Linked DNA regions of Homo sapiens. The protein of the gene in region 2 interacts with the protein of the main gene of each other region in a biochemical or structural test. Each region holds a gene or a part of one and is shown on either strand. Other genes may lie near its edges.

Region 1 (8,258 bases), on a different chromosome or scaffold from region 2:
AAGTTGAGATAGGCCAAAAGCTAGGCCTCTTGTGCTGAATGACAGTTAGCCAAGTTGTGAATGCAGAGGAAGAGTTCTTGAAATTAAAATGCTACTCCAATGAATACATGAATGATAAGCCAAACAGCCTTATTGCTGATAGGGAGAAAGTTTTAGTGGTCTGGATAGAAGATCAAACCATCCATGACATTCCCTTAAGCGAAAGCCTAATCCGGAGCAAGGTACTAACTCTCTTCAATTCTGTGAAGAGTGAGGAAGCTGCAGAAGAAAAGTTTGAAACTGGCAGAGGTTAGTTCATGAGGTTTAAGGGAAGAAGCCACCTCTGTAATGTAAAAGTGTAAGGTGAGGCAGTAAGTGTTGATGAAGAAGCTGCAGCAAGTTATGCAGAACATATAGCTAAAATAATTGATGAAGGTGGCCACACTAAACAACAGACTTTCAATGTAAATGAAACAGCCTTATATGGAAAAAAAAATACTATCTAGGACTTTCATAGCTAGAGAAAGGTCAATGCCTGGCTTCAAAGGACAGTCTGATTCTCTTGTTAGGGGCTAGTGTGGCCAGTGACTTAAGTTGTAACTAGTGCTCATTTACCATTCTGAAAATCCTAGGGCCCTTAAGAAGTATGCAAAAATCTACTGTGTGCTGATCATTGAAACAGGAAAGCCTGTATAGTAGCATATCTGTTTACAGTATGTTTTACTGAATATTTTAAGCCCACTATTGAGATCTACAGCTCAGAAAAAAAGATTTCTTTCAAAATATTACTGCTCATTGAGAATGTGCTTAGTCACCAAAGAGGTCTCATGGAGATGAGTAAGATTAATGTTAACATCTGTTCTGCAGCCCATGGATCAAGGAGTAATTTCAACTCTCAAATCTTACTTAAGAAATGCATCTTGAGGCTGAGCACAGTGGCTCATGCCTGTACTCGCAGCACTTCGGGAGGCCAAAGCTGGTGGATCGCTTGAGCTCAGGAGTTAGAGACCAGCCGGGGCAGCATAGTGAGACCACCCCCTCCACTGCCAGTCTCTTAAAAAAAAAAAAAAAAAAGGGCGGCAGGGGGAAAGAAAGAAATGCATTTTGTAAGGCTACAGCTACATAGATTGTGATTCTTCTGATGGGTATCAACAATGTAAATTAAAAACCTCCTGAAAGGATATACTATTCTAGATACCATTAAGAATATTTGTCTCCAGGCACGGTGGCTCACCCGTGTAATCCCAGCACTTTGGGAGGCGAAGTGGGCGGATCACAAGGTCAGGAGATCGAGACCATCCTGGCTAACATGGTGAAACCCCATCTCTACTAAAAATACAAAAAATTAGCCGGTCTTGGCAGCGGGCACCTGTAGTCCCAGCTACTCGGGAGGCTGAGGCAGGAGAATGGTGTGAACCCGGGAAGAGGAGCTTGCAGTGAGCCAAGATAGCACCACTGCACTCCAGCCTGGGCAACAGAGCGAGACTCCATCTCAAAAAAGAAAAAAAAAAAGAATATTTGTGATTCATGGGAGGAGGTCAAAATATCAACATCAGCAGTTCACGGTGGCTCACGCCTGTAATCCCAGCACTTTGGGAGGCTGGGGCAGGCAGATCACCTGAGGTCAGGAGTTTGAGACCAGCCTGCCCAACATGGTGAAACCCCGTCTCTACCAACAAAATACAAAAATTAGCCAGGCATGGTGGCACGCTCCTGTAGTCCCAGCTACTTGAGGAGCTGAGGTAGGTTAATCGCTTGGGCCCAGGAGGTGGAGGCTGCAGTGAGCCGAGATTGTGCCTCTGCACTACAGCCTGGGCAACAGTGAGATTCCGTCTTAAAAAAAAAAATCAATTAACACAACAAGAACTTGGAAAAAGTTGATTCTGACCCTCATGGGTGACTTTGAGGGGTTCTAGACTTCAATGGAAAAAGTAACTGTAGATGTGGTGGAAATAGCAAGAGAACTAGAATTAGAAGTAGAGCCTGGCCGGGCCTGGTGGCTCACGCCTGTAATCTCAGCACTTTGGGAGGCCTAGGCGGGTGGATTACGAGGTCAGGAGTTCACAACCAGCCTGGCCAGATGGTGAAACCCCGTCTCTACTAAAAATACAAAAAATTAGCAGGGCGTGGTGGCGCACGCCTGTAATCCTAGCTACTCTGGAAGCTGAGGCAGAGAATTGCTTAAACCTGGAGGGGCAGAGGTTGTGGTGAGCCGAGATCACACTACTGCACTCCAGCCTGGGCGACAGAGCGAGACTCTGTCTAGAAAAAAAAAAGTAGAGCCTGAAGGCTGGGCCTGATGGATCACCTGAGGTCAGGAGTTGGAGACCAGCCTGGCCAACATGATAAAACCTTGTCTCTACTAAAAATACAAAAATTAGCTGAGCGTGGTAGTGGGATTGTTACTGCATAGTAATCCCGGCCACTCCAGAGGCTGAGGCAGGAGAATTGCTTGAACCCAGGAAGCAGAGGTTGCAGTGAGCCAAGATCGGGCCACTGCACTCAAGCGTGGACAATAGAGTGAGACTTTGTCTCAAAAAAATAAAAGGGCCAGGCAAGGTGGCTCACACCTGTAATCCCAGCACTTTGGGAGGCCAAGGCAGGCGGATCACGAGGTCAGGAGATTGAAACCATCCTGGCTAACACGGTGAAACACCGTCTCTACTAAAAACACACAAAAAAATTAGCCAGGTGTGGTGGCACGCACCTGTAATCGCAGCTACTCAGGAGGCTGAGGCAGGAGAATCGCTTGAACCCAGGAGGCAGAGGTTGCAGCGAGCCGAAATCACGCCATTGCACTCCATCCAGCCTGGTTGACAGAACGAGACTCTGTCTCAAAAAAAAAAAAAAAAAAAGTAGAACCTGAAGATGTGACTGAATTGCTGCAATTTTTAAATAAAACTTGAACACATGGAGAGTTGCTTCCTGTGGACAGGCAAAGAAAGTGGTTTCTTGAGGTGGAATTTACTGCTGAAGGTGCAGTGAACATTGTTGAGATTATAACAAAGGATTTAGAATATTTTATAAACTTAGTTAATAAAACAGTGGCAGGGTTTGAAAGGATTGACTCCAATTTTGAAAGAAGTTCCACTGTGGGTAAAATGCTGTCACACAGCATTGCACGCTACAGAGAAATCTTTCATGAAAGGAAGAGACAACTGATGCAGCAAACTTCATTTTAAGAAATTGTCACAGTTGGCCCAGTGCGGTGGCTCACGCCTGTAATCCCAGCACTTTAGGAGGCCGAGGCAGGCGGATCACCTCAGGTTGGGACTTCCAGACCAGCCTGGCCAACATGGAGAAACCCCGTCTCGACTAAAAATACAAAAAAATTAGCTGGGCGTGGTGGGGCATGCCTGTAATCCCAGCTACTCGGGAAGCTGAGACAGGAGAATTGCTTGAACCAGGGAGGCAGAGGTTGCGGTGAGCCAAGATTGCGCCGTTGTACTCCAGCCTGGGCAACAAGAGTGAAACTCCATCTCAAAAAAAGAAAAAGAAAAACTGTCACAGCTGCCCCAACCTTCATTAGCCACTGCCCTGATCCATGAGCAGCCATCATCAGGGCAAGACCCTTCACCAGCAAAAATATTACAACTTTGTGAAGACTCAAATGATCATTAGCATTTTTTATTTATTTTTTAAGAGAATATCTCCCTGTTGCCCCAGTTGGAGTGCATTGGTGCGATCGTAACTCACTGCAGCTTCCAACTTCTGGGTTCAAGAGATCCTCTCACCTCAGCCTCCCAAGTAGCTGGGGCTACAGGCGCACGCCACCGCACCTGGCTTTTTGTTTGTTTGTTTGTTTGTTTTTGAGATGTAGTCTCACTCTGCCGCCCAGGCTGGTGTGCAGTGGCGCGATCTCGGCTCATTGCAAGCTCCGCCTCCCAGGTTCACGCCATTCTCCTGCCTCAGCCTCCCGGGTAGCTGGGACTACAGGCACGTGCCACCATGCCCAGCTAATTTTTTGTATTTTTAGTAGAGATAGGGTTTCACCGTGTTTGCCAGGATGGTCTCGATCTCCTGACCTCAAGATCCACCCGCCTCAGCCTCCCAAAGTGCTGGGATTACAGGCGTGAGCCACCTCGCCTGGCCCACACCTGGCTAATTTTTAACAAAGTTTTGTAGACTGGGTCTTGCCCTTTTGTCCAGGCTGGTCTCAGACTCCAGACTCATGATTTAATATCTATGGTTGAGTGATTCCCTACTTCTTACTCTCTTACAGAACCACTCTATAAGATAGTTGTTGTAGTTAGCCCCATTTTACTCTTCCTGAGGCACTGGGAGATCAGGGTCACTTGCCCAAGGTCACACAATTAGTAAGCAGAGCTCGAAACTTCACCCCACCCCTGACTCCTACCTTTGTTCCTTTTGTTAGGCTTTGTTATGTCATCTGCTTTTTTTGTGTGGTGGGAAAGCACATGGCCAATGTTTCTAGAAACTTCAAATAGTAAAAACAAAATAGTATCTTTATTTTTGCTTTCACCGCAGAGGAGTCTGATAATTATCCTCAAGAAAATTTATTGATTCTCAGTAACTGTATTGTATTCCTCAAAGTTATTTTTCCTAAGTTTTCTCCTCTCACCAGCTAAGGGAAGTTGTCCTAGGGCCTAGGCATTTCCCTGTCTGCCACACCTCACCTCTTACTTTAGCCAAACTACTGCTAAATTCTGCTCCTAAATATGGCAGCATTCTGTGTTACCTGCACTAAAATTTGCTTCCCTTGTAAGTACCTTCTTGATGTCTTCCAGTGTTGGTTCTCGCCTCCTACTCTTGCAAGTTGAAAAGTTGAAAATGCCTCAGGTAGAAATGTTCTCTCCTATTCTCCCATCATGATCATCTGTGTTTTTTTGTTTTTTGTTTGTTTTTTGAGACGGAGTCTTGCTCTGTCACCCAGGCTGGAGTACAGTGGCACGATCTCAGCACTGCAACCTCTGCCTCCCGGGTTCAAGCAATTCTCCTGCCTCAGCCTCCTAAGGACCTGGGATTACAGGCATGTGCCACCACGGCTGGCTAATTTTTTGTATCTTTACTAGAGATGGGGTTTCACCATGTTGGCCAGCCTGTCTCGAACTCCTGACCTTGTGATCCACCCACCTCGGCCTCCCAAAGTGCTGGGATTACAGGTGTGAGCCACCACGTCCAGCCCTTTTCTTTCTTTCTTTTTTTTTTTTTTTTAATTTAAGAGAAGGTTGTCTTCCTATGTTTCCCGGGCAGGAGTGCAGTGGCTATTTGCAGGTGCAATTATATAGCACAGTACAGCCTAAAACTTTTTTTTTTTTTTAAAGACAGAATCTTGTTCTTTCTCAACTCACTTCAACCTCCACCTCCTGGGTTCAAGTGATTCACCTGTCTCAGCCTCCCGAGTAGCTGGGATTACAGGTGGGCAGCACCACGTCTAGCTCATTTTTGTATTTTTATTAGAGACAGGGTTTCACTATGTTGGCCAGCCTGGTCTTGAACTCCTGACTTCAGGTGATCTGCCCGCCTCAGCCTCCCAAAGTGCTGGGATTATAAGCATGAGCCACCATGCCCTGCCTACAGCCTCAAACTTTAAGCTAAATTAATCCTCTTGCCTCAGTGTCCCAAGTAAATGGGAATACAGGTGCTGATATGGTTTGGCTGTGTCCCCACCCAAATCTCACATTGAATTCCTACATGTTGTGGGAGGGACCCAGTGGGAGGCAATTGAATCTTGGGGGCAGGTCTTTCCCATGCTGTTCTCATGATGGTGAATAAGTCTCAAGAGATCTGATGCTTTAGGTCGGGGGCGGTGGCTGATGCCTGTAATCCCAGCACTTTGGGAGGCCAAGGCGGGCGGATCACGAGGTTAGGAGTTCAAGATGAGTGTGGCCAACATAGTGAAACCCTGTCTCTACTAAAAATACAAAAATTAGCTGGACATGGTGGTACATGCCTGTAGTTCCAGCTACTTGGGAGGCTGAGGCAGGAGAATTGCTTGAACCCAGGAGGTGGAGATTACAGTGAGCCGAGATCATGCCACTGCACTCCAGCTTGGACAACAGAGTAGACTTAATCTAAAAAAACAAAAGAGATCTGATGCTTTTATAAGGGGGAGTTTCCCTACACAAGCTCTCTTTGCCTGCTGCCATCTATGTAAGGCATGACTTACTTGCTTCTCCTTGCCTTCCGCCATGATTGTGAAGCCTCCCCGGCCATTTGGAACTGGCTTTTGTAAACTTCTTGCTTTTGTAAATTGCCCAGTCTCAGGTATGTCTTTATTAGCATCGTGAAAACATACTGGTACAGTAAGTTGGTACCAGTAGAGTGCGATGCTGCTGAAAAGATACCTGAAAATTTGGAAACAGCTTTGCAACTGGGTAGCAGGCAGGGATTGGAACAGTTTGGAGGGCTCAGAAGAAGACAGGAAAATGTGGGAAAGTTTGGAACTCGCTAGAGACTTGTTGAATGGCTTTGACCAAAATGTTGATAAGGATATGGACAATGAAATCCAGGCTGAGATGGTCTCAGATGGAGATGAGGAACTTGTTGGGAACTGGAGCAAGGGTCACTCCTGTTATGTTTCAGCAAAGAGACTAGCCGCATTTTGCCCCTGCCCTAGAGATTTGTGGAACTTTGAACTTGAGAAAGATGATTTAGGGTATCTGGCAGAATAAATTTCTAAGCAGCAAAGCATTCAAGAGATGACTTGGGTACAGTTAAAGGCATTCAGTTTTATAAGGGAAGCAGAGCATAAAAGTTTGGAAAATTTGCAGCCTCCTGTCAATGTGCTAGAAAATAAAATTCCATTTTCTGAGGGGAAATTAAAGCCAGCTGCAGAGATTTGCATAAGTAACAGGGAGCCAAACGTTAATCCCCAAGACAGTGGGGGGAAATGTCTCCAGGGCATGTCACAGGCCTTCATGGCAGCCCCTCCCATCATAGGCCCAGATGCCCAGGAGGAAAATATGGTTTCCTGGGCTGGGCCCAGGGTTCCCCTGCTGTGTGCAGCCTAGGGGCCTGGTGCCCTGCGTTCCAGCCGTCTCAGCTGTGGCCAAAAGGGGCCAACATAGAGTAGAACTCAGGCTGTGGTTTCAGAAGGTGCAGGCCCCAAACCTTGGCAGCTTCCACATGGTGTTGAGCCTGCGAGTGCGCAGAAGTCAACAATGAGGGTTTGGGAACCTCCACTAGATTTCAGAGGATGCATGGAAACACCTGGATGCCCAGGCAGAAGTTTGCTGCAGGGGCGGGACACTCATGGAGAACCTCCGCTAGGGCAGTGTGGAAGGGAAATGTGGGGTTGGAGCCCCCAAGCAGAGTCCCTACTGGAGCACCACCTGGTAGAGCTGTGGGAAGAGGGCCACTGTCCTCCACACCCCAGAATGATAGATCCACTGACAGCTTGCCCTGTACACCTGGAAAAGCTGCAGACACTCAACACCACCCAGTGAAAACAGCCGGGAGGGAGGCTGTACTCTGCAAAGCCACAGGGGTGGAGCTGCCTAAGGCCATGGGAACTCACCTCTTGGATCAGCGTGACCTGGATGTGAGACATGGAGTCAAAGGAGATCATTTTGGAGCTTTGAGATTTGGACTGCTCTGCTGGATTTCGGACTTGCATGGGGCCTGTAGCCCCTTTGTTTTGGCCAATTTCTCCCATTTGGAATGGCTGTATTTACCCAATGCCTGCACCCCCGTTGTATCTAAGAAGTAACTAAATTGCTTTTGATTTACAGGCTCATAGGTGGAAGGGACTTGCCTTGTCTCGGATGAGACTTTGGACTTTTGAGTTAATGCTGAAATGAGTTAAGACTTTGGGACTGTGGGAAGGCATGATTTATTTTAAAATGTGAGGACATAAGATTTGGGAGGGGCCAGGGGTGGAATGATATGGTTTGGCTGTGTCCCCCACCCAGATCTCATCTTGAATTTCCACATGTGGGAGGGACCCGGTGGGAGGTAATTGAATCATGGGGGCAGGTCTTTCCCATGTTCTGGTGATGGTGAATAAGTCTCATGAGATCTGATAGTTTTATAAGGGGGAGTTTCCGTGCACAAGCTCTCTTTGCCTGCCGCCATCCACGTAAGACGGGACTTACTCCTCCTTGCCTTCCACCTTGATTGTGAGGCTTCCCCAGCCATGTGGAACTGTTAAGTTCATTAAACCTCTTTCTTTTGTAAATTGGCCAGTCTCAAGTATGTCTGTCTCAGCAGCGTGAAAACGGACTAATACAGGTGCACACGGCTGTACTGTCCCCCGTCCTGCTTTTAAGGCTTTCTTTGTTTCCTAATTGTGACTGTTTTTACTTGCAATGTAAAGG
Region 2 (8,258 bases):
GCCTGGGCAACAGAGTGAGACTCAGTCTCAAAAAAAAAAAAAAAGAAAAGAAAAAGAAAGAAAAGAAATTTAGAATACTTTGGTTAAGTTTCAAAAATAATTTAAATTGCCTTAAACCTGTTTATTAACTCAAGGAGAATTAATAATCTTATAATATTTAGTCTTATCTCTTAGTAGGTTTTTGTCATTTTCTAGGTATTTTGTACCTTCTTTTTTTTAATTTAAAAAAAGTTTTTTAGAGATGGAGTTCTTGCTGAGTTGCCCAGGCTGGCCTGGAACTCCTGGGTGTAGGCAATCCTCTCACCACAGCCTCCCTAGTAGCTGGGACTATAGGCACACAATCATGGCTTTGTAGAATTTTTTAAATAGCTGCTGTGAATGGGAAGATGGATTTTTTTCCCATATTTCTTCTCATTTGCTTTGCTAAGATAGAATTATGCTATTTTTCTTTCTTAATTATTATGTAATCTAGCCACTTTGGTGAGCAATTTCTTATTAAGTTAGTGGTGTTTTTGCTTATTGTTTTGAGTATTCCAGAAGCAAATAGATGTTATTTCGCCTTTCTGAAGATACGGTTAAGTCTGGGTTCTTGTCACGGAGCCCTTCTGGGCAGTTTCCCACTTCACCTCTGCCTCCTCCAAAGTGCCAAGCACGCAGCAGGTACTCAGTGAGTGTCCTCTGAATGAAGGTAAAGGAACCGCTTGGCTAAGGTCATTCCTGGCCCTGGGTGGCAGCCCTTTGATTCAGGATCTGCACCTCAGTCTTACCAGAGGGCTGGGGGCTTTTAGACCCAGGTGTCTGATTCAGGCTAGCCACCTCACAGACACTTGCCGCCCATTTCCATCTAGAGGGAAAGCAGGGGCCAGTCACCCTAGGGAGACCCCATTCAGGACAAAAGAAGCTTAGAAAAAGGACCCAGCGGAGGCTATGGCCATCCAGAACGTCTTGCTCTCTATCCAGCCAGGCTGCCTGAGGCGTGCCCTTCCAGGCTTGGAACCCTGTCTCCAAGGAAGGGGATCCAACATCAGACACAGCCCCTCTCCCCAAGTGTCCAAGATCCAAAGGGGGAAAATAACAACTGTTTCTTATTCTCTTCCCTTTATTCCTATACCCTATAGAATTGCCCACATTTATTAGTATTCTGTTTTTTAATTTCAAAAAAAGGAATACATTCATACATTCACAAGGCTCAAACATAATCTAAAAAGGTATGCAGTGAATGTCTTACTCTACCCTCATTCCACCCATCCCATAGCCACTTTTATTAATTTGCATGTCCTTTTAATATTTATTTATTCAAATACAATCAACTATGAAGATATTCTTATTTTTCCCCATTCTTACACAAAAGGTAGCATCTGATACACACATTTCTGCACCTTGATTTCTAACTTAAAATATATATCATAATAATACAAATAGTTAGCATTTATTGAACACTCATTGTATGCCAGTCATTTTTCAAACTTTTATCCATATATTAACTCATTTAATCCTTCCAGTACTCCTATTATTAACCTCATTTCTCCATGGAGAATTTTCCTTATCAGTATATAAAGAGCTTCCTCAATGGCTTACAGCTACATAGTATTCCGTTGTATGGGTGGATCATAATTTATGTAACTAATTGCCTTGTGAGGGACACGTGGGTGGCTTCTAATTCTTTGCTATTGTGGACTGTGCTGCAGTGAATATATTGTATGGATATCATCTTGTTATGTGTAGAGATAGAGCTGCAGAGCAGATCCAAAGAAAGAGGATTGCTGGGTTAAATGCATTTGTAATTCTGATGGGTATTGCCAAATTGCCTTCTGTAGAGTTATTAGTTCTTTTCATAATTGCTTAGTATTTCTAATTAAACGTAGCATTGATGAGCACTATGTATCAGTCTGGCTGGCTAGTAGGCTCTCTGTTGGTGGTTCCAGAACAAGTTGATCTCAGTGTAGTCCCAGATGAGACCCTTTCTTCTGGCCTCAGGTGGGCTGACTTATTCCTTTTTTTTTTTTTTTTTTTTGAGATGGAGTCTTGCTCTGTTGGCCAGGCTGGAGTACAGTGGTGCAATTTTGGCTTACTGTAACCTCCACCTCCTGGGTTCAAGCAGTTCTCCCACCTCAGCCTCCCAAGTAGCTGGGATTACAGGCGCACACCACCAAGACTTATTCTTATCACTGCCGGTGAGAGTAAATTACAGCAATATTTCTGGGGAACTAACAGTATTTTCCCTGGTAATATTTGAAGAAGCAGCCTTGTAATGGTTAAGAACATGGACTCTAAGCTGGACTGCCTGGGTTTTTATATTTTCTTTCGCTGCTGTAACAAACTACCACAAATTTAGGGGCTTAAAACAATGTAAATGTATTCTGTTATGGTTCTGGAGGTAAGAAGTCTGAAACAGGTCTCACTGAGGTATATAAAGGTGTCAGCAGGCTTTGCTCCTTTGGGAGGCTCTCAGGGAGAACGTTTTCTTGCCTTTCCCAGCTTCTAGAGGCTGCCCACATTCCTTGGTGCATGGCCCCTTTCTGTCTTCAAAGCCGGCAACATCACAACATTCCCACCTCTGCATTCATCACATCACATCTCCTCTCATTCTCCTGCCTCCCTGCCCTTTCCTTTGAAAGGATTCACGTGATTACGTTGAACCCACCCAGATAATCTAGAATAATCTCTTTATCTCAAAGTCCTTAATTGAATAACACCTGCAAAGACCCTTTTGCCATAGTAAGGTGACATATTCACAGGTCTCAGGAATTTGCACGTGGACATCTTTAGAGGCCACTATTCTGCTACTACAGTTTGCATCTAGACTCTACCACTTACTAATCGTGTGATCTTGAACAAATTATTTTGCCTCTTGCACCAGTTTTCTCATCCTTAAAATGGGGATAATAATGGTATCTATTCCACTGGATTGTCAGGAGGATTGAATGAGTAAATATTTGCCAATGCTTATAATAGTATCTGAGACACAATAAATGCTATGGAAGTATCTGCTAGCTAAAATATATTAACCAGGCCAGGCACGGTGGCTCACACCTGTAATCCCAGCACTTTGGGAGGCTGGGGCGGGTGGATCACCTGAGGTCGGGAGTTCAAGACCAGCCTGACCAACATGGAGAAACCTCGTCTCTACTAAAAATACAAAATTAGCCGGGGTGGTGGCGCATGCTTGTAATCCCAGCTACTCGGGAGGCTGAGGCAGGAGAATTGCTTGAACCCGGGAGGCAGAGGTTGCGGTAAGCTGAGATGGTGCCATTGCACTCCAGCCTGGGCAACAAGAGCGAAACTCCATCTCAAAAAAAAAATAACCAAATAAAAATATTAAAATACAAACACTTTGATCTAGCAGGCCTATATTTATAATCTATTTCATAGGAACAAAAGCTTCCATGATTAGGCTATATAACTTGGATATTACTAAAGTGTTGTCCATATTGGCACCAAAAGAAAAAAAAAAGGAAAGGAAAACGAAAGAAAGAAAATGCACAAACAGGAAATTACCTGAATGCCAGCAAAACGACAGTGATTGAATCAATTGTGGCCCATCTGGGATATACCAGAGCTATTAAAGAGAATACATCTGATCTGTGCCTATGCACCTAGAGGAATGCTCTGAGTGAAAGTTCGTTGAGAGGAGGAAGTTCAAAGTAATTATATGACTTGATTTATTTCTTTCTTTTTTTTGAGACGGAGTTTTGCTCTTGTTGCCCAGGCTGGAGTGCAATGGCACCATCTGGGCTCACCGCAGCCTCCGCCTCCCGGGTTCAAGCAATTCTCCTGCCTCAGCCTCCTGAGTAGCTGGGATTACAGGCATGCGGCAACACACCCGGCTAATTTTGTATTTTTAGTAGAGACGGGGTTTCTCCATGTTGGTCAGGCAGGTCTTGAACTCCCGACCTCAGGTGATCCTCCCGCCCCGGCCTCCCAAAGTGCTGGGATTACAGGCGTGAGCCACCGCGCCCGGCCGATTTCTTTCTTTCTTTTTTTTTGAACAAACATCAGCCCCCAAAATTATTGTAGATATCTAGGTCAATCATTTAACATGTTCTGTTTCTTCCTCTGGGAAATATGTATAACGACAATTCTCACTCAAGGGGCTCTTGCAAAGGTTAAGTGGCATGGCTGACATGTGTCAAGTCTGTACCATCCTGCAAGCAGCAGCCCAGTCTGGCATTTGTGTAAGGCGGTTTCAGTGGAGAGATGTGTGGAAGGGTGCACCCCACGATGCTCACCTGGTGCTTCCTCGGTGGGGAAGGGAAATTCAGAAGTGGTGGAAAGAGATGATTGTCGTTTCGTATATCTTTGTATTGTTTCCCGGATGTTGAAATTGTTACTGTAGTAACTTTTTATACTCATGTGTTATTGGTAGTTTGGATACTATCACCATAACCACAAACACTGAATTAGGAAAAGCAGAAACCTAGAAACATGCCATGATTCAAAGTCTGGTATTTTTGGAAGAGGAATTTAATAACGAACGTTTTAAGAGGAAAAAGTCAGGAGAGTCCTAACCCAGGCCAACCTTGTGTGTCCACAGCATCTACTGCCGAGGATGTTCCAAGCCGCTGTGCTGCTCGTGCGCGCTCCTTGACAGCAGCCACAGTGAGCTCAAGTGCGACATCAGCGCAGAGATCCAGCAGCGACAGGAGGAGCTGGACGCCATGACGCAGGCGCTGCAGGAGCAGGATAGTGCCTTTGGCGCGGTTCACGCGCAGATGCACGCGGCCGTCGGCCAGCTGGGCCGCGCGCGTGCCGAGACCGAGGAGCTGATCCGCGAGCGCGTGCGCCAGGTGGTAGCTCACGTGCGGGCTCAGGAGCGCGAGCTGCTGGAGGCTGTGGACGCGCGGTACCAGCGCGACTACGAGGAGATGGCCAGTCGGCTGGGCCGCCTGGATGCTGTGCTGCAGCGCATCCGCACGGGCAGCGCGCTGGTGCAGAGGATGAAGTGCTACGCCTCGGACCAGGAGGTGCTGGACATGCACGGTTTCCTGCGCCAGGCGCTCTGCCGCCTGCGCCAGGAGGAGCCCCAGAGCCTGCAAGCTGCCGTGCGCACCGATGGCTTCGACGAGTTCAAGGTGCGCCTGCAGGACCTCAGCTCTTGCATCACCCAGGGGAAAGGTAAGCACGCACGCCACCTTCCTGGGCGGCCTGTGCCTCTGCTGCACCCTAGGGAAGGCGAGTCAGAAGAGATCATCTCCATTTGACAGAAAAGAAAACTGGGTGTTTATTCAGTCTTTGGGGGTTGGTAAGGTCTTAGGTTCCAGGGCACAGGATAAGGGGGAGATGAGGCCCTGACAAAGGGCTGCAGCCACCCAGAGGGGACACATTTTACTAATTTACAAGACTCTGTGGATTGACCTAGCGATGACTCATGGGGAACACGTGAAAGTTGAAAAACTGCAAAGCTGAGAATCAGACCCAGTATCATTTTGGCGCCAGAGGGACCAAGCACTTCAGGAGGTTCTCTTAAGCCACCGGTGTCTCGGAACAGAGAAGTCAATTGGGACCTGGGGTTACGGTAGAAGGGGGCTAAGAAAACCTCCTGGGGATGGTTGGATGCTTACCCAAAACCATACAGTGGCTCAGTGGAGGAGATCCCTTGTCTGCAGGATGACCTGCTGTCTGCCAACCTTTGCGCGCCCTGCCTAGTGTTGGACGCTTGAGAGGTAAGGAGACACAGACTAGTTTCTGATCTCAAGGAGCCAGAGCCACTTCACGTAGCTGGAGAATGAGACAGTGCTCAGCTCTGCAATCCAAATCCGGGAGATGTAGCAGCTGTGTATTAGCTGGAACAGGGGGGCTTTCAAAATAAGGGGTAGGGGGAGTGTGCCAGAGAGTCTCCAGGAGTCTTTGACTAAATCTCCAAGCTGGAATGTGAGCTCTGAGCAGCTAGTATAGGATGCCCTTACTGGGAAAGGGGAGGGAGGCTATGGAATCTGAAGGCACCTGGGTAGGGTGCCAGTGACAAAGAGCTTATTTACTTCTCCTGGAGCTGGACATGGGTCATGAAGGATAATCTTAGAGGGCCTGGACCTGTGCCTTCTCCACCTAGGTAGTGAATGTCACCCATATTAAGGAAATGACCCCACAGAGTTTACACAGCTTGCCTTGGGTGTTATAACTGGGCAATAGCAGAGAGAAGGGTTATTTTATTCTGAAGCATAAGAGATTTAGATTTAATAAAAACCAGGCTGCAGATAAGGAAGATCATGGAGCTCTCACTATATGTAGAGAGTCAGTGAGCCGGTAGTGATGGCTTTATGATTGCGCACACTTAGCCTTGCTGTTGGCTCAGAGATGGAGAGAGGTACACTTGGGGTTTGGAGCCAAAAGCAAGCACTCTAATGCCACCTCCTTTTCCCTTCTGGCTGGGTTCCTGCCCACTGCATTCGAGAGAGCTCTCCTTCCAGCTGCCCCTCCAGGGAGTTGTCCAGTGCTTTGGGATGCCCTGGAAAATAGGTATCCTGGAAAAGCAACAGGGACCTCCTCTCTATCACTGTCCCAGGTCAGGATGTCCCTTACCAGCATGTCCTTGACCTGCCTGTGACCTTCTTTGTGTTCTACAGATGCAGCTGTATCCAAGAAAGCCAGCCCAGAGGCTGCCAGCACTCCCAGGGACCCTATTGACGTTGACCTGGTGAGATGGGTTTGAGGTCTGAAGGGGTGGTGGTGGGGCCCAGCAGGTCAGGCAGGTTGTGAGTCCTGCTGTCCCTGTGTGTGCAGGGAGAGCGTCTGAGTGAGGGACAGCAAGTGGCTGGACTGGAAATTTCAGTGAGAGGAAGTAAAGGAAGACATTAAAGAAGGGTTGGCTGGCTAGCTGGCTCTGACTCTAGGCTCCTAAATGCCAAAGTTGCTCTTGATGGGCCATGAGCCAGGTTCAGTGGGGGTTAGATGTGGGGTAGACAGTCGGCCACAGATCAGGGCTGCTGCAGAGGGAATTCCAGCATTAGATGGCATATTAGTGCCTTCCAGCCATGAGAAACTATGGTTGTCAGATGTATGGTTAGATATAGGGTCAGCAGTCCTGAGGGATGTGCAGATGTCCTCTCCCCTCCTACACCCTACCCCCAATGTGGGAGCCTTCTCTTGGAGTCAGAATAGGTGGGCCTTCCCCTGCTCTTTCCCCACAGATGGTTCTTGGAAAGGAACGGGGAATGGTGCCAGGAGTCAGATTTCGATCCCAGTTGCCCGGGTTCTGCTGGTGTGATTCCAGGGCCACCATACATGTAACAAAGCAGACTGTCTCAGGGTTCAAGGTATCCATGTCCCATCTAATGCTGGCATTCCTTCTGCAGCACCCCTGACCTGTGGCTGTCCAGCTTTCATGTACACATCTCCAGGGACAGGAAGCTTGCTCATTCTAGAGGCAGCTGCTCCCAACTCTGGACTGCTCTGACTTAGAAAGTGCTTTTCCGAGTGGAAATGCAGTGGTGTCCCTTTGACTTGCCCCCTTTGGCATTCACAAGTATGGCTCCTTTCCACCAGAATAAGCATCCTCGGTTTCTTCCTGGACTTGGCATCTGGTCTCTTCCCTAGCCTAGTCACTCAGGTTTGCATGCGCCTAGCCTATCAAGGATCTGGCCCAGGACTGGCCAGTCCTTCATGGACAGCAGGTCTTCTGGTGGTGGGTAGGGGCCTAGCTTTTGCCATGGCATGACCCATAGGAGAGAGAGAGTGCTGTAGGTTGAGGCAATCAGGAGAGGCTTCCTGGAAGAGACAGGACTTAAGAGTCTCAGAGTTTTAGAGCCAGGCAAGAGCATGGAGTCTAACCCCCTTTTTTTCACAGAGGACGAAGCTAAGACCCAGAAAGGATGTGACTTACCCAAGGCTACACACAGCAAATTAGGGGCAAGATTAAAAGCTGACTCTGTTTTTTGTTTGTTTGTTTGTTTGTTTTTTAGATGAAGGCTCGCTCTGTTGTTCAGGCTGGAGTGTAGTGGCGTGATCTCGGCTCACTGCACCCTCCGCTTCCGGGGTTCAAGCCATTCTCCTGCCTCAGCCTCCCGAGTAGCTGGGACTACAGGCGCGCACCACTACGCCTGGCTAATTTTTGTATTTTTTAGTAGAGACGGGGTTTCATCATATTGGCCAGGCTGGTCTTGAACTCCTGACCTCATGATCTGCCCGCCTCGGCCTCCCAAAGTGCTGGGATTACAGGCGTGAGCCACTGTGCCCAGCCTAAAAGCTGACTCTTAACTGCCTTGGGTACTGCATTCCTATATACACAACCTCAAGTAAAAAGAGGAATTTTTTAATATATG
Region 3 (8,994 bases), on a different chromosome or scaffold from region 2:
TAATTTTTAATTTGTTTGTAGAGACAAAGTCTGCCTATGTTGCCCAAGCTGGTTTCAAACTTCTGGGCTCAAGCAATACTTCTGCCTGGGTCTCCCAAAGAGCTGGGATTATAGGCATAAGCCACCCTACTAGGTGTTTTCTTAGCACCCAGTAGATCACTTTCAATTACCGCAATCGTAATTAAACAACTAATTATGTAATTCATGGTTCAATTTTATACTGTCTGTCTCCTCAAGAATAAAAATTCGCTGGGTGTGGTGGCTTATGTCTCTAATCCCAGCACTTTGGGAGGCCAAGGTGAGAGGATCACTTGAGCCCAAGAGTTCAAGACCAGCCTGGGCTACATAGTGAGAACTCGTCTCTACAAAACAAACAAACAAACAAAATAGCTGGGCATTGTGGAACACTCCTGTGGTCCCAGCTACTGAAGAGGCTGAGGTTGTTACCGGTGGTGAATCCATATGGGTCTGCAGCAGCCTCAATTCTTGCCTCCTCAGAAGAAAGAATTTGACTGAGGGGCATGAAGCAGAAGAGATGGAGGCAAGTTTTAGAGCAGGAGTCAAAGGAAGGAAAGTACATGTGGAACAGGTCCAAGCAGGCAACTTGAAAACAAGTGTGAAGTTTGACCTTCTGACTTAGCATTTTATATGCTGGCATGCTTCTGGGGTCTTGCATCCCTTCTGCCCTGATTCTTCCCTTGGGGTGGGTTGTCCGCATGTGCAATGGCCTGCTAGTGCCTGGGAGGGGAGCATGCAGAGTGTGTTTACTGGAGTTGTACACATGCTCACTTGAGGCGTTCTTCCCATTCTGGTGGAATGCCCCTGGAAGGTCATATACCAGCTAAACTCTGCCATTTTGCCCTTTAATGCACATGCTGGAGCCCACTCACCCAATTCCTGAGATCTTATTGAGACGCTGCCACCAGTTTCAGGTGTTTTTATCTACTGGGAAACTGCCTTTCCCTGGTGCTGTTTGCAACCAATTATTATATTAGAGAGGCAGCGTGACAACTGCCTGACCATCACCCGATGGTCACCTGACATTCCTGGTGAGGTGCGGGAGAAGCCCTCTCCTGCCTTGCACATGCCTGGCTAGCCACCTACTGTAACAAGGGGAGAGGATCACTTGAGCCCAGGAAGCAGAGGCAACAGTGAGCTGTGATTGCACTACTGCACTCCAGCCTGGGTAACAGATTGAGACCCTACTTAAAAAGAAAAAAAAAGAAGAAGAATGAAAATTCCACAAACAATGGGCCCTGTGGGTCTCACCTACAACTAAACCTTAGGTCCAACCACTGTATTTTATACATTGGAAACAAGATATAATTTTTGATTGAAAAACTATAAGGTAAGCTCAGCAACCCCTGAAAAGAATTATTTGGCTGTTGTCACTACCTCATACCTGTGAACCCCGAAAATCTGAGACAGGTCTCAGTTAATTTAGAAAGTTTATTTTGCCAAGGTTGAGGATGCACCTGTGACACAGCCTCAGGAGATCCTGATGACATGTGCCCAAGGTGATCAGACCACAGTTTGGTTTTACACATTTTAGGGAGACATGAAACATCAATCAACATATGTAAGATGAACTTTGGTTCCGTTTGGAAAGGTGGGACAACTCAAAGCAGGGAGAAGGCTTCCAGGTCATAGGTAGATAAGAGACAAATTGTTGCATTCTTTTAAGTTTCTGTTAGTCTTTCCAAAGGAGGCAATCAGATATGCATTTATCTCAGTGAGCAGAGGGGTGACTTTGAATAGAATGGGAGGCAAGTTTGCCCTAAGCAGTTCCCAGCTTGACTTTTCCCTTTAGCTTAGTGATTTTGGGGGCCCAAGATATTTTCCTTTCACACACCCAATCTAAATAAAATCTATTTCATGTGTATTTTCCACTAGAAATTCAGGCTCCCGAAGGGCATAGTCTTACTCAGGTGGCAGAAAAACTGTAATTACTGCAAATGCCAGGTTTACCATAAACACATCTCTAAATGGAGTTCTCTAGGTCTTGACATAAATAAAAAGGGTTGATTCACACTGAACTTCTCCACTTCAAAAAGAAACAGAGTAGCAGAAGCACAAACCAGATTGCAGTGGGTTGGGGAGTGAATCACAGATATACAAAAATAGGAGGGACTGCTCTTATCCTGGACAGGAGTTTTAAAATCAGTCTTTGGTTAGCAGCATTTTTAGTAACATTTTTATACCATATAGTAACATTTTCATACCTATACTATGAATTATAAAAATAGTTTAATTCATATTACGGAAAAAATAGGAGTCACTTTGAAGGTATCTTTTACAATAAGCAATTCACAGAAGGGAAATCTGAATGCCACTTTCACATATGAAAAATGTTTGAACAGTAATGAGAGAAATAAACATTTAAACCACAGTGAATTACCATTTTATACCCAACCAATTGGCAAAAACAAATTTAAAGTTGGAAAACACCAACTGTGATGATAATATAGACCAACAAAAACCCTCAAACACTTGTAATGGAGAGACAACACAGCACTGTAGCTGAAAGCACAGACTCTAGAGCCATTGTGTATGGTTTCAAGTTATTGCTCTACTTCATAACTAGCTGTGTGACTTTGGGCAACTTACATAACATCTTGGTGCCATCTGTGAAACTGGAATGATGATAATAGATCCTACCTCGAGAGGACTAGTGTGAGTATTGATGAGTTACTATAACATGCTACATAAGTATTTGCTAGTATTATTATTACTGAAATAGAATAATGACTTTAGAGAGCAATTTGACTAGTGCTAATACAGTTGAAGCTGTGCATAGCATACAACCCAGCAATTTTGCTTCTGCGTGCACACCCCAAAGAAACACCTACAGGTGTACACAAGGAGGTATATGCAAGAATTTACATTGTAGCACTGTTTGTAATGGAGAAAACTGGAAATAGTCAAAATATCCATCTGCAGAAAAAAATGTTTTAAAAAATCTATGGTATATTCATATAATAGAATACTATAAAGCAGTGAAAATAAATAAATTAGTGCAGTAGTTCTCAAATTTTACCATGCACTATAATCACCTGGAGAACTTGTTAGAACACAGATTACTGGGGCCCACCTTCAGTTTTTGATTCAATAGGTCTGTAATGGGGCTCAAGGGTTAGCATTTTCCAAGTGATGTTGATGCTGCTGGTCCAGGACAACACTTTGAGAATCACTGAATTGGACCTTCATTGATCAACATGGACAAATCTTACAAACAGAATGTTGAGTGGAAAATGGAAGTTGCAAAAGAATACATATGCTTTGATACCATTTATGAAAAGTTTTAAAATATGGAAAAGAAATCATTTTACTGCATATGTATATATATCACATATACACATGCAGTAAAAATTTTCAATAAGATCACAAAGCTAGTCAGTTACAGGTCTAGGATTTGTACCTATGTGTATCCGTGAAATCGCCTTTGCAAACTGAAACCCCCTTTGCAAAAATTCTATCAGTGAGAAAATTATAGCAGTGGAGGAGATCTGATCTAGCCAAACCCCATCTTGCCTTTAGCTTTCAGTCTGTCCTTAATTATTCCTGGGCTTAAGCCAAGATAACTTTGGGAGACATTTAGTTTAATAGTTTAAATAATTACAGTCCTTCCCCAAAACTCAATTGCCTTTGTAAAGCTAATGAGAGACCACCAGACAACGGGGATAGATGAGCCTGAATTCTGTTAAGTGTAGACATAAGTGATTGCCAGCCATTATTCCAGAGGTCACAAGATATGCAACTTCCCCAATTACTCCTACAGATAACATCACTATTGTAGAATCTAGGATTGGCCTTTTTGGGTATATTTTTAAGTTTTTTGCATGTTTGACTACTGATGGCTCCACCTGGACCCACCAACTGTTCCTGTGGCTCCACCCAGAAACAACTCAGTAGGCAGGAGGACCATCTCCCATACCCCTATGACTGCACCAGTCAGCAGCAAGCACCCATTGCCTAGCCACCCCTACCCCTTTCCCCAGACTACCTTTGAAAAGAAACCTAGCCCCCAAATGCTCCAGGAGGCCGATTTGAGTAATAATATAACTGATTTGAGTAATAATAAAACTTCTTCCATTTTTCCACTCGATGTTGTGTAAAACTCTTTCTCCATTGCAATCCCTATACCTTGATAAATCATCTGTATCTGGGCAGCAGGCAAGAAGAATCCACTGGGCCACTATATCTGGATCTAAAGGCCATGTATTTTCCACTACAAGCTAATTAACAAGAGGTATCCTTTCCCCTCAGAAACAACTGGACACACCTGTGTAGATTCTACATAAAGAACAGCTAAAGAAAATCTGGTTAATACTTAGCCTAGTATACTTACCAGGAAATCAGCAACAGTCTTTCTCTGATATTCCTGAAATTGTAATCCCCACCTTACACTTGTATCACTTGTTTTCTAAATATTAATATACGGTAAAAATCAGGTGGCTGTGTGCTATGGGAAAATCTGGAGGAAAAGATAATTTTAAAAATATACTTTTTTGGCTCTGCTTGCTACTGAAAAAAAATTTTTTTAAGAAAATATACTCTTCCCTCCTTAACATTAAAGTGAATCCACAGAAGATGTGTTTGGTGAAGTGTCTGGTGGTGAATACTAAGTAGAAAGGGCAGACTAACACAGCCTTAGAGCCTGGATAAAATCCTGGTGTCCTGAAAGTTTGACCGTGGGAAATCTGGAGGATAAGGTCTATCTCTGGTCTGTCTATCTAACTTCTGCACCTTGCACATAGTAGAGGCCTGACAGATACATGCCAACCCATGTGTGCATGCAATAATTCAATCCACAATTAGGAACATTGTGCCAAAAGGAGACCCACCAACTAAAAAGAAATACAAATTCTTAGCTTTCTGTGACTACCCTTTACTGCCTTTGCTGGCGAAAACAAAGAAGAAAAGAGGAGGCTTCAGTATTCAAATACTGCCAGTTCCGCAGTGAATTCTAAAAATGGTTACTCTTGGGATACAAGGAACCCCCACGAGGATAAACAACCTCTGAGGTTACCTGAATGCCCCAGCAAAGGGCACGACTACTTCCGGAGCCGCACCGGAACCCCTTGGCGGATTATGTGGGTTCCTGCGGGAACGATTTAAGAATAGGACTACTTCCTGCTTCTGGATATGGGCCGGTGAAGGGAAAGGAAATAGCTCTACGAGCGGCATCCTGCCTGCGTTAGCGGCGGTGGAGGAGGAGGCAGAGAGGAGTGGAGGGCGGAGTAGACGGAGGAGGCTGCTGCAGAGAAGAAAGTGTCAGAGCCGGTAAGTGAGCCAGTCACCTTAGAGCAGGGGACAGCGGACAGCGCCCCAGGGCTCGCTTCGCAGATATGTGGTCCCAAGTTGCTGAGCTGCCCCATGGGGTCAGGTCGGTCGCCTGTCAGTCGGCGCCGAGAAGAGACTGTTGGGGCGCTGGGGCCGGGCCTCGCGGAGCGCCAGAGTGCGCTCTCGCTGGCTGACAGCCTATCTCGGGAGCCAGAGGAGGCCCCGGGCTTTGTCCTGCCTGGTGGTGCTGGGGTTTCGCATCCTGGACAGCTTCCCCAGACAGTGTTTGGAATTCAGGGAAGGAAGAAAGTACGTGCGCCCCCATTTAACCCTCGGGACCTGGCGAAATCCTGCTACGTGGGTAGTGAACATTGTATCGGGGACTGAAGGAAATGCTTGTAAAGAGTGTTAGTCTGGAGCCATACTTTCCCTGCCCTGTTCAAGCTCCCTGGACTGTCGGAAGCGGAGTTGTTTGTAAAGGCAAATGCAGACGCCTCCTCCTCCTGTCACTTCGGGACAAGTTAACAATCTTCAGATTCGTTATTAAAGCCTCGTGTACCCTATGTGATCTATCAGGTTAGTACTGCTGTGGGTATCTGGTGCTTGTTCTGTAAATATACTTGATGTCGAGATCACAGTTAAATATCTCCAAGCACTTTTTGAAGAGAAACAAGACTGACCTAACAGTCGGGACTATTTAGCATACTTTCCCTCACCTTTACTTTAATCGTTTTAGCATGCAGAGTAAGGATGGTAATCTTAAATGTACTAGATTAAGTTATTGTGCATCTGCAGAAGGCCTGTGGTATAATAGGATATGAAACTCTTGATAACTGACGAAATGAGTGAAATGATTATATAAAGATTGTTACTGTAAAGATCAGAAATAGCTTTTATTAAGTTCCTGCTTTTCTGTTGTCTTAGGTTCGGCTTTAGAGTGTGGTGAAGGGTACTTTTCATGGTGCATGGAAGGAAAGCCAATGCGCAGGTAGGCATTTAGGAAGAAAACCTTTGGTTTCACTGATTAAAATTCAGCATGTAATAATTTAAATTTTTAAAAAAGAGTTTCAATCTTACTAAATTCTGCTTGGAACTAATGAGTCTTGTTCTACAATAAATCAAAAGTAATATTAAGAATTAATAGCTTTTTAATAGAATAAAATACAGAAGTTGTTTCTGAAAAGTGCTGTGGATTGTATGTAGTGCTAAACACTTAAATTTTCCTTTTTTCATGTTTTTTACAGTAAATAATCATTAAGTTCATTATGATACTATATGGATTTATTATAATCTTCAGTTCCCTATAAAATGTAGAGGATTCTGTTCCCATGTAAGAATCATAATTATTTATAATATACTGTACTGCATGCCTAATTATGGTTTTGGTTATTTCCTTGATGTTCAATCATACATTTGTTCTGTTAATTAAAATAGCTGCATTGTAGGGAAGATTGTATAAGGACTAAAATAGGTATTAGACATAATAACTTAGTCCATAGAAAAATAGAACAATGTCTGGGAAAATATAGACAATAAATAGGCCCTCCCAACCCTAGAATTTAATAATGTTTTTTCTCATTTTGTTCTAACAAATGAGACTAGAATCTTTATGATACAAAATCATCCCAGTTCTATTTCTTTGGTTTTTACATTTGTTTTCTATTTATTGAACTCTATTTAATCATTTGTTATTTAACATCAAAGATAAACAACTTCTGCAGTTCTTTTAAGAGAAGAAACATTTTATAATGGGAATATGACTTATAACTCAGAACTTGGAGCAAGAACCAGAATGTATATCTTTATCCAAATCTGTTATTGGTTTATCAATTGACCTTGAGCTGTTCACCTTCTCTGTACCCCAGTTTACTTCTTTAGTGTATCTGATCAGGATATTGGGGATTAATGAACATTTGCAAATGCTTTAAGATCTCCAGATGAAAAGATGTTATCAAGATGAAAAATACCATTATCTTATTTATATTTTACTCTGTAGTAGGAATAATATTTTACCACAATGTACATGAAAAAATTAACAACATAATATTAAATACTTCATCCCTTTACTTCTAACATTATTGCAAAACCCACTGATTGTGTCTCATCTCCAGCTACCATAAAATGTCATATCTTATATAATTGCTAAAATAAGAGCTTATTATTTTTTAAAAGAATAGCAGAGTGTGGGAATGTTTTTGGTTTATCAGTAGTCTATATAAAATATTTGCTTAATCACTCATACCTGCTCCTTTTTTCTTGCTTTATTACATAATACTGTCAGCTATTCAGAATCATGCTGGATAATTCTAGTGCTGTTAATCGTTAAGCTACGGCTCTTTCTTCATCACTGTCACTTGGCCAGAGCCTAGCCTACTCACATTGGTCTCTGGTCTTACTTTCACCTGCTTCCTACATTCAATCATGGTCACACTTCCCTATCCTTTTCTTATTGGGCTGTCATTTTTGCTGATTTAACCCAGAAGGCAGTCTCTGTAATGCTGGGTTTATACTCAGTTGCTATTAAAGAAGCTTTGAGAAGTAACTTTTTATATTGAGACTATTTGAATACATGTTCATTCTGTCTACTAGATTGTGAGCTCTTTTAGTCTCATGTCTTCCTATATTTGCATCACTAGCACCTAACGATTACTGAATAATTGTTTGAATAGGACTGAACAGTTTCTGCAGACTTTCCCCCTCCAAAAAACAAAAAAAATCTATGAACAAGACTGAAAATTATTGTTAAAGGTATTCTAATTTTTGATTATAAAGTTTTATGAAATCAATTGGCATTTTATTAGTAAAGTTTCATTACCTCATTTATTTATGTACTATCATTTGCATAGCACAATGCAAAATTTAAAAGATACAATAGGATATTCAGTGAAAAGTTAACTCTCCCATTGCTGACCCCAGTTCCCAAAGGCAACCACTGTAAGCAGTTTCTTATGCATTCTTTTAGAGGCATTGTAGTTCATACACAAATGTATATAAGATGTCTTCTCTTTTCACTTTTTTAATTTCTATTTTGTAGATACAGGGTTTTGCCATGTTGCCCAGGTTGGTCTCAAACTCCTGGGCTCAAGCAGTCCCCCTGCCTAGGCCTCCCAAAGTGTTGGGATTACAGGCGTGAGCCACCACACCTGGCTAACATTAGTAGCTTTTAAAAAGAAAAGATGGCTAGGCACAGTGGCTCACACCTGTAATCCCAGCACTTTGGGAGGCTGAGGTGGGCTGATCCCTTGAGCCCAAGAGTTCAAGACCAGCCTGGGCAACATGACAAAACCCCATCTCTACAAAAAGGAAACAAGAAAAATTTAGCCAAGTGTTGTGGCAGATGCCTGAAGTTCTAGCTACTCAGGAGGCTGAGGTGAGAGGATCACTTGAGTCTGGGAGGCAGAGATTGCAGTTAAGCCGTGATCATACCATTGAACCCCAACCTGGGCAACAGAGCAAGACAGTGTCTCAAAAAAAAAAAAAAAAGACACAAATGTTGTAGGGCATAGTGGTTCACACTTGTATTCCCAGCTACCCAGCTACTTAGGAGGCTGAAGCAGGAGGATTGCTTGAGCCCAGGAGTTCGAGGCTGTGGTGATCATGCCACTGCACTCCTGCCCGTGTAACAGAGAGAGACCCCATCTCTTTAAATAAATAAATAAAAATAAGAAAATGCATTTGAAAGGACACTGTCAGTATATCATGCACATTCTT
Region 4 (5,941 bases), on a different chromosome or scaffold from region 2:
AAAATTTAACTTTGAATCTCTGCCTTGACTTCCTCTTCCCAGCAACATTGTGGCACTTAATACCATTCCAGAATCTTAGAGTTTGATAAGACCCCTGGACACGTGGTCCAACCATTCACATAATTGGAATTATCCCTACCATCTCCCTGACAGGCCAAAGAGACAGCTCACAATAACATTTCCTCGAGGTCCCAGCTCAAAGCCTCCTAGCCACTCTTTTCTCTCCCACAAAGGAAGTATGTGTAAGGTATCCTTTATTTTAACAGGTGACCAGCATAACCCTCTGTCCCACGTTTCCTTTTCCACCTTCAAAGCTGGGAATGGTAGTGTGTGTTCTTAGTAGACAGATGTTAGGAGTCAGTACAGGTAAAACAAGGCCCTAGACTTATAATAAAGGATGCTGGGATGAGCCTTGTCCCTTCCCATGGAATTCCAAGCTGTAGATGCATTGCTCCTGGGCGGGAAAATAAGGTACCCTTCCCAGTAGTTCAGCACGTGGCCTGTTTAACAATAGGGCCTAATAGCCTAACACCTCTTTTTCTGACTCTCTTGGGTATGTGAACTCCCAGGGTGAAAGCATCATATTCCACCTCATGCTAGTCCATCCAGGTGGACCAAACAAAAAGAAACCCCAGGTGTCAGTCCTCTCTCTTACTCCAGCAAGACATATTTAAAAGCTGGAGGGATGGCACAGGACCAGAAACTGAAACATTAAAAACATTGGGGCTCTCAAGTGAACTCTTCCCCCTTTACCCACTAGAGCCACTTAAGGGCCATGTAAAACCAGGCAGTAATGGACAGGCTATGAGATGGGGTTGGTGGAAGTGCTTTTCCAGGTTATCTCTGTTTCTACCTCAGGATCTTGGTGCTAACATTGCTGGGGGCAGTGGATAGAAGATGCTAGCATGATTACAGTGGCTAAAGAATACAGAAATTAATTCCACATAGAAGTATGAAGCATCTCATACAGAGGAGTCAATTGACACAAATTCCCCAGACTGGATGAGGGAAAAGTACTCTTATATTCAACCCTAAATAGGACTCCTGGGAGCAATGGTGGGTCCCAGGTGACAAATGGGATGTAACTAGCCTCTGTGCCTCAGACCATGTGTTTCTCAAATGGGTAAGAAAGGTCTGTCTGATATTCTCTGTTCAGGGTCTCGGAGTGATTCTTGGGATTATGGTTTCTGTTGAGGTCTCTATAGCTGGCATCTAGTGCTTATCATCCCTCAAATATTCCTTTTTTAGGGAAGGCAGGTGAATATGAGCAGTGGACACAGGAGAAAGGGGAACACAGGAGAAAAAAGTCTTATTTAGTTTAAAGTAAATTACATAAGATATTAATAACATGCCTTTGGGCCATAAAATGCAGAAATACCTTTTTTTTTTTCCTGGTCATCAAAGCCTACCCCTAAACAAAGGGGAAAGTTTCCAGATACTACTCCTGCTCTTGTTGGCTAGCTCAGGAAAGAATGGTCCACTGTGTAAGTCTGTATTTGGACCAGGTCCAGGGTGGTAAGATGGTCTCAGGGTCACTAACTTCTACCTTGTGCAAAACTGCATTAGTCAGAAAGGGGGCCCAAATTCAGACAGGCTCAACAATTCCTTATATATTTTTCAAAGTGCTTTTGTTGCATGTTTCATTTTCTGCTATACATGGCAATAAATATTTGTTGCTTTGGTCTGTACAAAGTCTGTGAGGAAGGTAAGACAGATGTTACCTAAATGGACAAACAATAAATACAGAGAACAATCTTGTTCTGAGTCCCCCAGACAATAGTGAAAGAACCTGAAAAAGGTCTTTTGATTCATAGTCCAAATCGACACCATATTGCCACCTTTCAAGTTGTTGCTTACATACAGTAAATACCAAGAACCAGACAATATTCCAGGAGTCCTGCAATGAGACTGCATGCCACAGCTTTCTAAAAGAGAATGTGAAGGTCCCCAGCAACTCATATATAGAAAGCTATTTATTTCCTATAGAAAACTCAAAAACAAAGAAAAAGAAAGAAAAATAAAGAGAGATAGAAAGAGAAAGGGAAAGAAAGAGAGAGAAAAAACAAACACACAAAAGGTGGTCTTTCCCCAAAAGGCAGGCAGTTGAAGGGAGGACATGTAGTTGCTGGAGTGGAAACAGTAACATTCAGTTAACAATGGAATATTTAAAAAAAATAGTTTTCTTTTCAAATTGTAACTTGTGGTAAAACATAGAAAAATGTACTAAACGAGCTTGTATAAAACAGTAAAATTTTCAAATAAGCCCAGGGAAAAAGCACAATGCTGGAAAGAATGCGGTACAACGGGAGAGGAGAAAAGATTTCATACAAAACTACCTATTACAATACAGAAAAAAGTATAAAATGTTCCTACTTTGGAACTTAAGTACAAAATGACACTGGCATTTGATCACTTCACTATCTAAGCCTGAGGAGCTCTCAGAGGGTGGGGAGAGATGCTAGAAAGAACAAAAGGAATAGCAGTTTTTAAATCTCAAGTTGATCAGTCCAAACTCCACCCGTTTTTTTTTTTAGCTGAAAATATCACCTCCCTCTGTAACCTCTACCCATATGGCAAAGTTCATCCAGGCCTCAAAAATATTCCATTAGGTAGTCCACAAACACCCTACTCATAGGGGCTGGGATCTCTGTGTGCTGGAATTTGGAAAATGGAAATAAATCTACAGGCTAAATGGTGAACACATTCAGTCTTTAAAAAAAAAAGCATATCCCTGTGAAATTTTATACATACATATATATATATATATATGTATGTGTATATATATATGTATATATATATGAAATTCTCTGTGGTTAGAAACATATTTAAACTAGCCACAGACCAAACTAGATCTGCATTCATCCAGCGCTGGAATTTTATGCTAAATACTAAGGTCCTTTTTCTTCTTGGTCAGAAGTAGGCAACAGTAAAAGTGGTGCTTTGTTGCGCCACTGAAACCGCTCCCTGGGTGGGTCTTCCCCGTATCATGTGTTGGTAGCACATGCAAACCCCTGCTTTCACGGAAAGGACTGCTTGGAACTTTGGGACCTGTCCAGGGCTCATGTGCTGTGCCTCCGGATAGGATGAAGCTACAGATGATAAAACAGCTACGTATAAAAGCAGATGGATTTTGTATAGGGACATATAAATAGGAAAGGTCCTGGAGGAAGGGACTTATGCCTGGGCCCCAAAGTCCAGTTTACAGTCACATTCCTGACCATACATCGTGAAAATTGTGTGTGTGTGTGTGTTTGTGTGTGTGGGTGTGTGTGTATGTCCATGTATATGCTGGTGGTTTTTATCCCTACCTTTTGCCCATGCCCTTTCCTACTTCTTAGTAAGGCCTAACAACAAGAATTTATATGAAACCAAGATTCTTTCCAAGCTTTTCTCAGTCCCATAATTAGGGACTGAGTGAGGCTGGAGCCCTTTGAAAACAAGATGGCAGAACTGAAGAAGTGAAAAGCAGTCTCTCTCTTCAGCTTAGGGATGTCCCTCACCCCTTTCACAGCACCAAAGTTTCTTTGCAAAAATAGTATCTGAGATACAAAAGGAAAGGCAGATGTGCTTGTGAATGCATCTCGCCAGGGCCTGGTCCAGGATCAAGGGTGTTACAACAGCAGAGGGCTGGGAGCAGCTGTTTCCAAGGTCTCTGGCTGTAGACAACAAAGAGCTGGTCCCCCACATGGTCAAGGTCTGCTAAGTGAGACAGTCTTCACAAGAGTTTTCGGTGGAGGATCTCCCAGACCATCCGCTTCCGGAAGTATGGCATGTGTTGCTGTAGGGACACAGAGACACCCTTAATTTTCAATGCTTTTGTCTAGACCTGATACGCCTTTCCCCATACTTCTTTCTTTTGCAAGGTTTTCAACAAACAGTCTCAGTTGTATTTCTGGTCTTTTAAATTATTCATTCTTGGTTACATGTAGTTTTTTTCTTTTCATTGCTTTTTCTATTGTTATTTTTCACCATTATAGCCTTAGAAGTTACACTGGGTATTTCCAGGAATCCCCAGGCTATGCCCACGTCTCTAAGAATTTTGAGAATGGTGTCTAATAAGTCTTCTATGTTGAACTTTTAAGAGGATATGAGCCTAGGCCTAAAAATAAAAAATTCACCTTTTAGAAGAATTAAGGGAACTTGAAGAGTCAGCTCAGGCTGGTCTAGACAAAGGGCTATGGTAGAAAAATCTGGTAAAGTCACTGATTCAAACAGAAGTAAAAGTGGAGAACACATCAGAATAAACCATAATCTCTAATCTCAATCCACTTTGGTCTGAGAGACCACATGGACAGAAATGACCAATCACTCTCTAAGAGAAGACTGACCAGATTCATCAAGTGAGGGGTCAGGGGAGGGGGCAGCATAACAAATTACACTAGGAGATTGAGGTATGGCCTATTCCCAAACCTGACTACTAACGAAATGCAAGGGAACTAAAGAAACCTGCTCTGGTCCCAGTTCTCTCTAGAAGTTACAGTAGGTAGAGGAGACAGGCAGAGAAGGTTCTGCTCTTGAAACCTTTACTACAATAACTGAGGTGTGGTAACCCAGGACGTGGCTTATCACTAATTTTCTTTCTTTTGTGATGTGATTCAGGTAGTAACCATCAGTGTTATGAATCATGGGCTGAAGCATGCTAAAGGTTAGGGTAGAGGCCCCTAAAGAGAACAACTGGAGAGAAAAACATCTACAGGGCAGCTTGGAGACAAAGTAATCCTAGAGCTCCCTATGGAAGGCTCAGCTCACCTGTGTGAAGTTGATTGGTCTGTCTTTGGTAATACAGTCAGCATATTTGCAGGCAAACATCCCACAGTCACTTCCATTCATCTGCTGAGGAATCTCCTGGAAGACCAACAACAAAAAAAATGACATCTTTCCAAGCTTCTTTCCTTCTTAGATTAAAAATAAGAACCAAAAGATATAAATTGTACAGGTTTCTCTAAATTACAAACAGATGACTCTGGCCCCCCAGTCAGGACAACAGAGGCTCAAAGAAACAAAATACAACATTCCAGTCAGGTCTGTGTACTCTGTATTAATCAAACAGGAGAATATCTCCGACTCCCATGGCACCTAAGGGTATAAAAACTGCTCCCTCCCCCAGAGGCCAAATAATCAGCAAACATTCCCCTTAGGAGTGAAAAGCTTAGTAAAATATCTGGGCATTTAGAAAACCTAGTTCTACATAAGAAACACACTATCACTTTTCCTACGGATAGCTTAATTTATCCTCCCCCAGAAACCAACCAACCAAGCTGAAGTCAGGCTAGACACGAACACAGGTGGTCCCTGGGAATTAAGCAGTAAAATTCTTTCCTCCCCAAATACCCTACTTTTAGGACTTTTATTTCATCAAGATGAAAGGTACCTGGCTTTTCTTGCTGAAAAGCTGCCAGCCATTGGTGTCAAACTCTTTCCTTTTCTTGTCAATGCTTTCTTGCTTTAGGTATTGCCTAAAGGTATCAGGAGAGAATGAGATAAGCAGTGGGGAACATCGATGACAGCTGCCACACTAAGAATGGGGCTGACAATACCTAGGAACAAATTTGTTTCATCTGCTCTTCTGAGGAAAAGAGTATATAATACTGGGCAGGGAATCCCTGGATTGTTAAGTTTTCTCCAGAGCTGAGCATGCCTCTTCTAGCTTGTCTCTTCTAATGTCCACTCTGTCAACTCAAAAGGAACATGACCTCTGCCTCTAACAGTTAAGCTCCTTCTACCTACCATTCCTTCTGAGGAACAATTCTTTTTATTCTTTTCCTTGGTTTATATGGTCCTTTAGAACTCAATCTAATGGAAGAAAAGTGTTTTTCTGGTACTATTGAGGTATTTATTTACTACTGTTAGGCTTGGCTCTCCTATCTAAAAATTAAATCCAAATCAACAATGTATTGAGTGCATACCTTCAATAGAGCTCTCTTTTAAGTGCAAACTGTTC

The links.
Region 1: of the proteins of PML (region 2) and RNF4, one has a biochemical effect on the other in vitro, tested with the Homo sapiens proteins (3 studies listed by BioGRID, with this or other methods).
Region 3: the proteins of PML (region 2) and KLHL20 form a complex in vitro, tested with the Homo sapiens proteins (3 studies listed by BioGRID and IntAct, with this or other methods).
Region 4: of the proteins of PML (region 2) and SENP1, one has a biochemical effect on the other in vitro, tested with the Homo sapiens proteins (2 studies listed by BioGRID).

What each region holds. Positions count from the first base shown.
Region 1 is NC_000004.12:2,471,567-2,479,824, forward strand, and holds part of RNF4 (E3 ubiquitin-protein ligase RNF4), read left to right. Parts: intron 1-8,258. UniProt on the Homo sapiens protein: E3 ubiquitin-protein ligase which binds polysumoylated chains covalently attached to proteins and mediates 'Lys-6'-, 'Lys-11'-, 'Lys-48'- and 'Lys-63'-linked polyubiquitination of those substrates and their subsequent targeting to the proteasome for degradation.
Region 2 is NC_000015.10:74,018,294-74,026,551, forward strand, and holds part of PML (protein PML), read left to right. Parts: intron 1-4,534; coding exon 4,535-5,115; intron 5,116-6,563; coding exon 6,564-6,634; intron 6,635-8,258.
Region 3 is NC_000001.11:173,709,796-173,718,789, forward strand, and holds the start of KLHL20 (kelch-like protein 20), read left to right. Parts: upstream 1-5,185; 5' UTR 5,186-5,283; exon of another isoform or gene 5,284-5,675; coding exon of another isoform or gene 5,676-5,859; intron 5,860-6,207; coding exon of another isoform or gene 6,208-6,248; coding exon 6,249-6,271; intron 6,272-8,994. UniProt on the Homo sapiens protein: Substrate-specific adapter of a BCR (BTB-CUL3-RBX1) E3 ubiquitin-protein ligase complex involved in interferon response and anterograde Golgi to endosome transport.
Region 4 is NC_000012.12:48,041,607-48,047,547, forward strand, and holds the end of SENP1 (sentrin-specific protease 1), read right to left. Parts: intron 5,457-5,941; coding exon 5,372-5,456; intron 4,846-5,371; coding exon 4,750-4,845; intron 3,779-4,749; coding exon 3,716-3,778; 3' UTR 1,291-3,715; downstream 1-1,290. UniProt on the Homo sapiens protein: Protease that catalyzes two essential functions in the SUMO pathway.